Linked DNA regions of Homo sapiens. Each later gene encodes a partner of the first gene's protein in a complex. Each region holds a gene or a part of one and is shown on either strand. Other genes may lie near its edges.

Region 1 (3,751 bases):
CTTCCTTGTTTGGTCTGCTGTGGATCTGCCTTATTGCATATGCCATGCATCAGATAATGGATGCATCAGATAATGGTGTTAGACAAAGCTTCATTGTGAACAACCTAATGCATTTTAGAGAAACAATCTCATCACATTTTTTCTAGCCTTTCCTACATTTAAACTTGCTGTTGCCCAAATTATAATTTTTTAAATGTCTTTGGTGGGCTTCTGTTAATTCACATGACTTGAGCTTATAGCTATGTCTACTGCACAGATTGGGTAATGGAACACTAAACTTTTATACTTGAAAATGACAGCCTTAAATGCTCATATCAGTCACAAATCTAGGATGTACTGTCTTGTTGTATGTGAGCTTTGTAGAGATTTTTAAAAATATAAGCATCACCTTCCCATTGAAGAGTGGAGAGAGTCTACTGGATGACTGGCCAGGAACTTTCTCTCTGAATCGGACATTTGGATGTCTTCTTTCTTCCAAGAAATGGTGGTTCACATTAAAGTATCATGGCCTTATGTATGCTCAAATGGAATCTTATGTAACTTTCTTATTTAATTTTGGTCTGCTTATTTTTAGATAAAATTGAAAGGAATTGTATAAATCAATTAACATATTAGCTGAGTTGTCCAACACATGGTATAAACGAATTACAACAGTAAACTATTACACATTTCCAACTTGCCTTTGGGGATTTATGAGGATTTTTTTTGGTGGGGGGAGGGGGCTCCAATTCATATCTCTGAAACCCTTCACACTTGGTTTACTAATTCAAAGTTAGAAGTCTAGAATTTGCCCTGCCCTAACAGAAACAGATTAGGAATTTGTCTACACAAACTGGTGTCACCTGTTTCTTGACTGGGATTTGGTTTCCTCATTATAAATATGGGAGGTAGAACAGAGATCTCCAACGTCTCTCCCATTTATCACAGTAATTTTCTTATTCACAGTAATCATTGTTGGATGTTACCTTTTCAGCTTCACATTCTCAAGATGGTAAAAATCATGTATATAGATTATCAGAACTCTAAGCAAAGATGACTGTCACATCTGAAGCTGAGGTGCCTTAGGTACTCTACTGACCTTGATGGGTTTGGAGTTCCCCATTGCTTATCAAGAGCTTTTTAATTGCTTTGGTTCTTTAGTTTTTCTTTTTGCAAAAATCCTTCCTGTCACTTTAACTAAAAACCAAAGATTTGTTTTCTATTGATAAGCAGACTAGAGAAAAACTGCCTTATTTTCAGAAGCATGTCTTCATTCAAAGCTTAGGCTTCAATAGAAATTCAGACTAATCACTGAAATGACTATTTCAAACTAGTGAAATATCTGGGAAATAAACTGCTTCAAAAATATTTTACTGACATGAATTTTGCTAGTGAATACAAATACACTGCCTCAAATAAGGCCATGTATGAATGAACTTACAAGATATTTGAGTTAATCAGTGTTTGCATATAGAGAATTAGTTCTAAAGTTCTTAAAAATAAATTTAGGGGCTCCCTGAAATTTTATTTAATACTTTGCTAACTTACACTCTTGTTTTATCTCCACAGGTACATTTTAGGTTAGCTCATGGTGAATTCTATTTACAATAAGTGGAGCTTGGATTAATGGGTTTTGTTATGAATTATCTTAGTGACTTTAGACACTGTTTCCATTTGATTTTTAACTATTTAAAATACCAAATTAAATACCAGTTTGTTGGTTGTTACTTTTAAATGATTGTTACTTTAACAGTGTCCCTTCTTAACACATGGGGTTACAAATAAAATACTATGCATAGTTTACTATCTACGTAAAGCACTGAACTTTTTACCTTAGTAGTTTTTATTTATTACCCTATGTAAACATTTAGGATAATACTCTTTCCTCTATTTATGCTGAGAGTCTACTAATCATTGGCAAAGTATGAGTCCCTATACTCTGTTAAAAAAAGCTCACTGTTAAAGTATAGGGAGAATAGTAATCCCTCATGAATCCCAGCTAGATTCCAATTTGGGTTACTAAATTGTATTTTAATCATTTTGTAATTTCAGTATGGCTCTTTGTTCTCAAACACATACATACCACCACGCACATTCTTTTAAACAGCTGCCACACCTCACCTCCAACAGAATGCCAAAAATGAAATGTTAAAAAATTTTGTCTAATGAAGGGTTACGGCTTGGAACACTTGGTTATTCATGTTATGTAAATCAAGAAGTGCATGCCATCAGCAAATTAAAATGTGGACTGGCTTTGAAGACTGTTAATGATGGGTCAGGCTTTGTACTTACAAGAGTACCTCCTTGGCTTTCCTGAAATAAGCATTTCTTAATCGTAACCCTGTCATTTTTTTAAAAGAGAATTTCTTTAAGGGCCGTTTTCATGATTTTTGAAGATCAAAATAGATTATCAAAATAGGGAACAGCAAAAGGAGGGAGGCTGCCCACTAAGAACTATTCCTCAAGCAAGTTTCCTACTGATTTTCTTATAATTATTCTAAAAATTTTTAAACTACACTATGGCAACAGAATTCATTTGTAAATCCTAGCTTAATCAGGTATTTTCATAATTAGATCCTAAGGTTTTCCTTTAAAACTATTTCCTTATCTCACATACAGACATGTTTCTATTCAACGTTCTTCATGCCACAAATAGGATTTTTTAAAAAAGTGATATCTATTAAATACATAATTCAGCTGCACTGCTATAAAGATTTCTCCAAATTATGGTAATCTGAGATGGCTTTATATAATTATTTTGTTTAAAGAAAATAGGAAACTTAGAACAAAGACATTCATGTAAAGGAAGTCATTCACAAGTGTTTGCCACCAAAATGACAAGGGCCCAAGCACTGGAGGCCAGCCTGGGCAAGATAGTGAGAGTTTTTTATAAATTTACATTTTTTTAGCCAGTAAATAGAAGAAACAACCTATGGTGTATAATCAAATATATTACAACTCAAGTGGGTAAAATTATTAAAATTACCAGGAAGAAGAAAAATCTAATTAAAAAATAAGTGGTACATCAGATGTTAAGTGACCTTAGCCAGCTCATTTTAACATCTGAGCCTCAGTTTCCCCTACAGAACAGGGACAGAAGTACCTACTATACTTAAAATGCAGGGCTGAAGTAATCTCTTAAAATTTGTCATGAAAGCTATAAAGTACCACGTACCAGTATTCTGTATATTACATGTTTTAACTTGAAAAAATTAAACTTACACAAACAGTATTTCTTTGGTCACTGACACTACTATGTAATAAGTAGAACCGGCAGTTTAGAACGAATAGTTCATGAGTAATATACTGTGTGGTAGGAAGTGGTAGGAACTATTCTTTACCCTTGCAAAGCAATCATCTTTTTTTTTTTTGAGACGGACTCTCGCTCTGTCGCCCAGGCTGGAGTGCAGTGGCACAATCTCGGCTCACTGCAAGCTCCGCCTCCCAGGTTCACGCTATTCTCCTGCCTCAGCCTCCCGAGTAGCTGGGACTACAGGTGCCTGCCACCACGTCCAGCTAATTTTTTTGTATTTTTAGTAGAGACAGGGTTTCAATGTGTTAGCCAGGATGGTCTCGATCTCCTGACCTCGTGATCCGTCTGCCTCAGCCTCCCAAAGTGCTGGGATTACAGGCGTGAGCCACCGCGCCCAGCCATAAAGCAATCATCTTTAATACATGCTGTTCTTCATGTGAAATGTCTGTTACAAGAGCAAATTCAGGAGCTGTACAACATACTGGCATTACGTTAACCATCTGTATCCTTACCTCAGAA
Region 2 (3,751 bases), on another chromosome or scaffold:
ACTTGACATGGGGCACAAATGATGGGTCTCAGTTCCATCCCGTGTGAGGCTCCTTCAACATTCTATTGCCCCAGCCAACTGACAGCACAAAATTTCCACTTTCTTAAAATTGCAACTCCAAGCGAAAGACTACAGAGACCCCCTCTAAATCTTCAAAACAGCCAAACCATGATTCATAAAACATTAAGGCAAACTTACCTTGATTCGAGGCATAGTAACTGTAGGTGGCTTTGCTTCAGCCACAAAACTGTGAGATGCTCCTTTTTCCACAAGGTAAGTTGTGTAGGGCATAAATTTCACACCCTTTGACCCAAACACAAAATCATCTCTCAAGGCATCTATCAGAACAATAACAACTTTACTGAAGAGAGGTGGTGGCAGCGTGGTCCAGTTAGAACTGGCTCCTAAGTGTTTGAAAGAAAAAAAAGGAAATTGAACTCTAAACTTTCCTTAGCATCAAGCACCTTCACAATCTAGCTTCTACCTACTTCTCCAGCACATACCCTGCGATATCTACATAACCCAACCCAAAAGGAGGCGACTTGTACTTGGTAGGTAGTGCTGGGGGGAAAGGACGGGGGTTAACAGGAGTAATCTTAGGGACCCACAGTAGCAAGCAGTGAATTATCCTCAGTATGGTGAAGAGTACTGGGGTAGGAGAATCCCTACGTAAGGGTCCTGGAATGGGACATTTAGGGAGCTTGACCTAAAACGCAGAGCTGCAGCTACGGGATGGCTGGGCGTTTACATACTGCGTTTACATGGTCAGCGGCTGGCGATGTGTGCAAGTGGTCCAGAACCAGGGCGCCTTTACTTGCTGTATATGGCTGGGTAGGTGAAGCCTAGGAAGAGGCCTAACGCAGAGAGGCCTTAGCCCCTAGGCAGGGAAAACATCTTGGAGGAATATAAGAGACCAAAACGCGAGGGGATCGGCAGGGGTCTTATCTGTTGTGTGCTAGGGGGCAAAAAGGGCGCCTATAACGGGGAGTGACCCAAAGGCTGCTCAGGAAAGGGGCGGGAGCTCTGGACGAGTAGAAGTGGAGAGGCTGGATCCCAGGTATGGACACAGCTTACTTTGTGGTGATCAGGAAGGAAGGTCGAAGTGGGGCCAGTAGAGGTGGTTGCCACAAAGTTGTAAGAATACAGAAAAGAGACGCTGGAGCGGTTAAAAAAAATTTCTGAGGTGGGGACCATAATGGAAGAGACCACCGGGGAGCGCCGAGAAGAAATCCGAGCAGCGAGGCTCAGAAAAAAGGTCTTCTAGGGGATGTGGGGTCAGGGGAGCGGAGACGCCGGGGAGGGGTCCGTACCAGCCGAGGGTTCGGGCGCTGGGGGCTCCGCTCCGTGTTCCGCTCTGGCAGAGGAACGAACGGGAGCCGGGAAGAATCCCCGAAGGAAGACCGCGATCCCTAGCACCTCGATCGCTACGCAACAGGTAGCGAAAGTCCCGGAGCCCAGCCGCATCGTGGACACGCTAGGCTGGATGCGGAACCGACCCCACCTGGAGCCTCGCCCTGCTGCAGCCGCGCTTCCGGCTCCAGGTAGCCGCCTCTAAGCAATAACGCCAGGCCTTATCGTCGCAGCGACAGTGGCGTCACGTCCGCCGGCGCGCCACAGCAGCGCGTCACTTCCGCCAGCCCGCCACAGCGGGGCGTCACCTCGGACATACGAACAGCGGGCGGTGTTCCCGGCTCCGTGGGGCCGTCTTCCCGGCGAGTCCGCGACGGTCGCCGCCCACGGCGAGGTACGAGGTTTTAAAAAGTTTTTAATTTGGAAGGCAGGGTGCAGTGGCTCACGCCTTTAATCCCAGTACTTTGGGAGGCCGAGGCGGGCGGATCACGAGGTCAGGAGATCGAGACTATCCTGGCCAACATGGTGAAACCCCGTCTCAACTAAAAATACAAAAAATTAGCGGGGCGTGATGGCGGGTGCCTGTCGTCCCAGCTACTCGGGAGGCCGAGGCAGGAGAATCGCTTGAACCTGGGAGGCGGAGGTTGCAGTGAGCCGAGATCGCGCCACTGCACTTCTGCCTGGCAACAGAGCGAGACTGCGTCTCAAAAAAAAAAAAAAAAAGAAAATTCAACCCAATACCTCAGACAACTGGTAAATATCTTAATGATTAACTTCGTTTTAAAGATGCCACATGAGTGAGATCATGAGGTATTTGTCTTTCTGTGTCTTATTTTGCTTACATGATATCCTCAGGTTTATCCGTGTTGTGGCAAATGATAGGGTTTCATTCTTTTATTAGAGCTGAATAGTACTCCATTGTGTATATATACCACATTTTCTTTTTTCTGAAAGGAAAATCTTGGGGCCCCAAAATTACTAAACTAAGGGAAAAGACAAGCTCGGAACTGCTCAGGACAAACCTGCCTCCCATTCTATTCAAAGTCATTCCTCTGCTCACTGAGATAAATGCATATTGATAGCCTCCTTTGGAGAGGCTTATCAGAAACCCAGAAACTGCAACCATTTGTCTGTCACCTACCTGTGACCTGGAAGCCCCCTCCCTGTTCCAAGTTGCCCCCGCCTTTCTGGACAGAACCAATGTCCTTCTTTTTTTTTTTTTTTTTTTTTTTTTCTTTTTCTTTTCAGATGAAATCTCACTCTGTCGCCCAGGCTGGAATGCAGTGGCGTGATCTCAGATCACTGCAACCTCTGCCTCCCGGGTTCAAGCAATTCTCCTGCCTCAGCCTCCTGAGTAGCTGGGATTACAGGTGCGTGCCACCACGCACGGCTAATTTTTGTATTTTTAGTTGAGACGGGGTTTCACCATGTTGGTCAGGCTGTTCTTGAACTCCTGACCTCGTGATCCGCCCGCCTCGGCCTCCCAGAGTGCTGGGATTTACAGGCATGAGCCACCGCGCCCGGCCTGTTTTTTTTTTGTTGGTTTGTTTTTGAGACGGAGTCTCGCTCTGTCGCCCAGCCTGGAGTGCAGTGGCACCATCTCCGCTCACTGCAAGCTCCGCCTCCCGGGTTCACGCCATTTTCCTACCGCAGCCTCCCGTGTAGCTGGGACTACAGGCGCCCGCCGCCACGCCCGTCAAATTTTTTTTTTTTTTTTGTATTTTTTAGTAGTGACGGGTTTCACCATGTTAGCCAGGATGGTCTCAATCTCCTGACCTCGTGATCCGCCCGCCTCTGTCTCCCAAAGAGCTGGGATTACAGGCGTGAGACACCGCGCCCTGTCCGGCCTGTTATTATACATATGATTGATATCTCGTGACTCCCTAAAATGAATACAACCAAGCTGTGCCCCGACCACCTTGGACCCACGTCGTCAGGATCTCCGGAGGCTGTGTCATGGGCGTCCTTAACTTTGGGAAATAAGCCTCCTGAAATGATTAAGACTTGTCATTTTTCTCGATTGACATTGATAAGCACTGAGAGATCCTCAGTGAAGGTAACCCGGCCTGCAGCAGTTCGCCTATTGATCCTCGGTATTGGCTTGGCACCTTATTGCCCAAACTGGTAGGATGATTGCTGAAATCTGGGACCTTGTTCCTCCAGGGATCCCTGATCTTCCAACGTTTTTCGGTGGGGGGTCTGAGGTTTATTTGCTGTTAAAAAACTCCTTTTTTGGGAGTTCCCACTCGCTTCATCAAGGAAGGCAAGCCTGCCTGCTTCTGCATCGACAGATAGCCGTCTTCAGCTTGAGCCCCATCACTAGGTAAGAAAATTGATTTGGAATTTTGTCTTGCAAATTCTTTTTAAATGACTAAAGATAACATTAACAACCAGCTGGTGT

Evidence for each region. The genes of interacting proteins can lie anywhere in the genome.
Region 2: PIGF (region 1) and PIGG share a complex: the UniProt entries of both Homo sapiens proteins name them as parts of the ethanolamine phosphate transferase 2 complex.

What each region holds. Positions count from the first base shown.
Region 1 is NC_000002.12:46,582,442-46,586,192, forward strand, and holds part of PIGF (GPI ethanolamine phosphate transferase, stabilizing subunit), read right to left. Parts: intron 2,248-3,751; exon of another isoform or gene 1-2,247.
Region 2 is NC_000004.12:497,049-500,799, reverse strand, and holds the start of PIGG (GPI ethanolamine phosphate transferase 2, catalytic subunit), read right to left. Parts: upstream 1,591-3,751; 5' UTR 1,465-1,590; coding exon 1,311-1,464; exon of another isoform or gene 753-1,310; intron 405-752; coding exon 199-404; intron 1-198.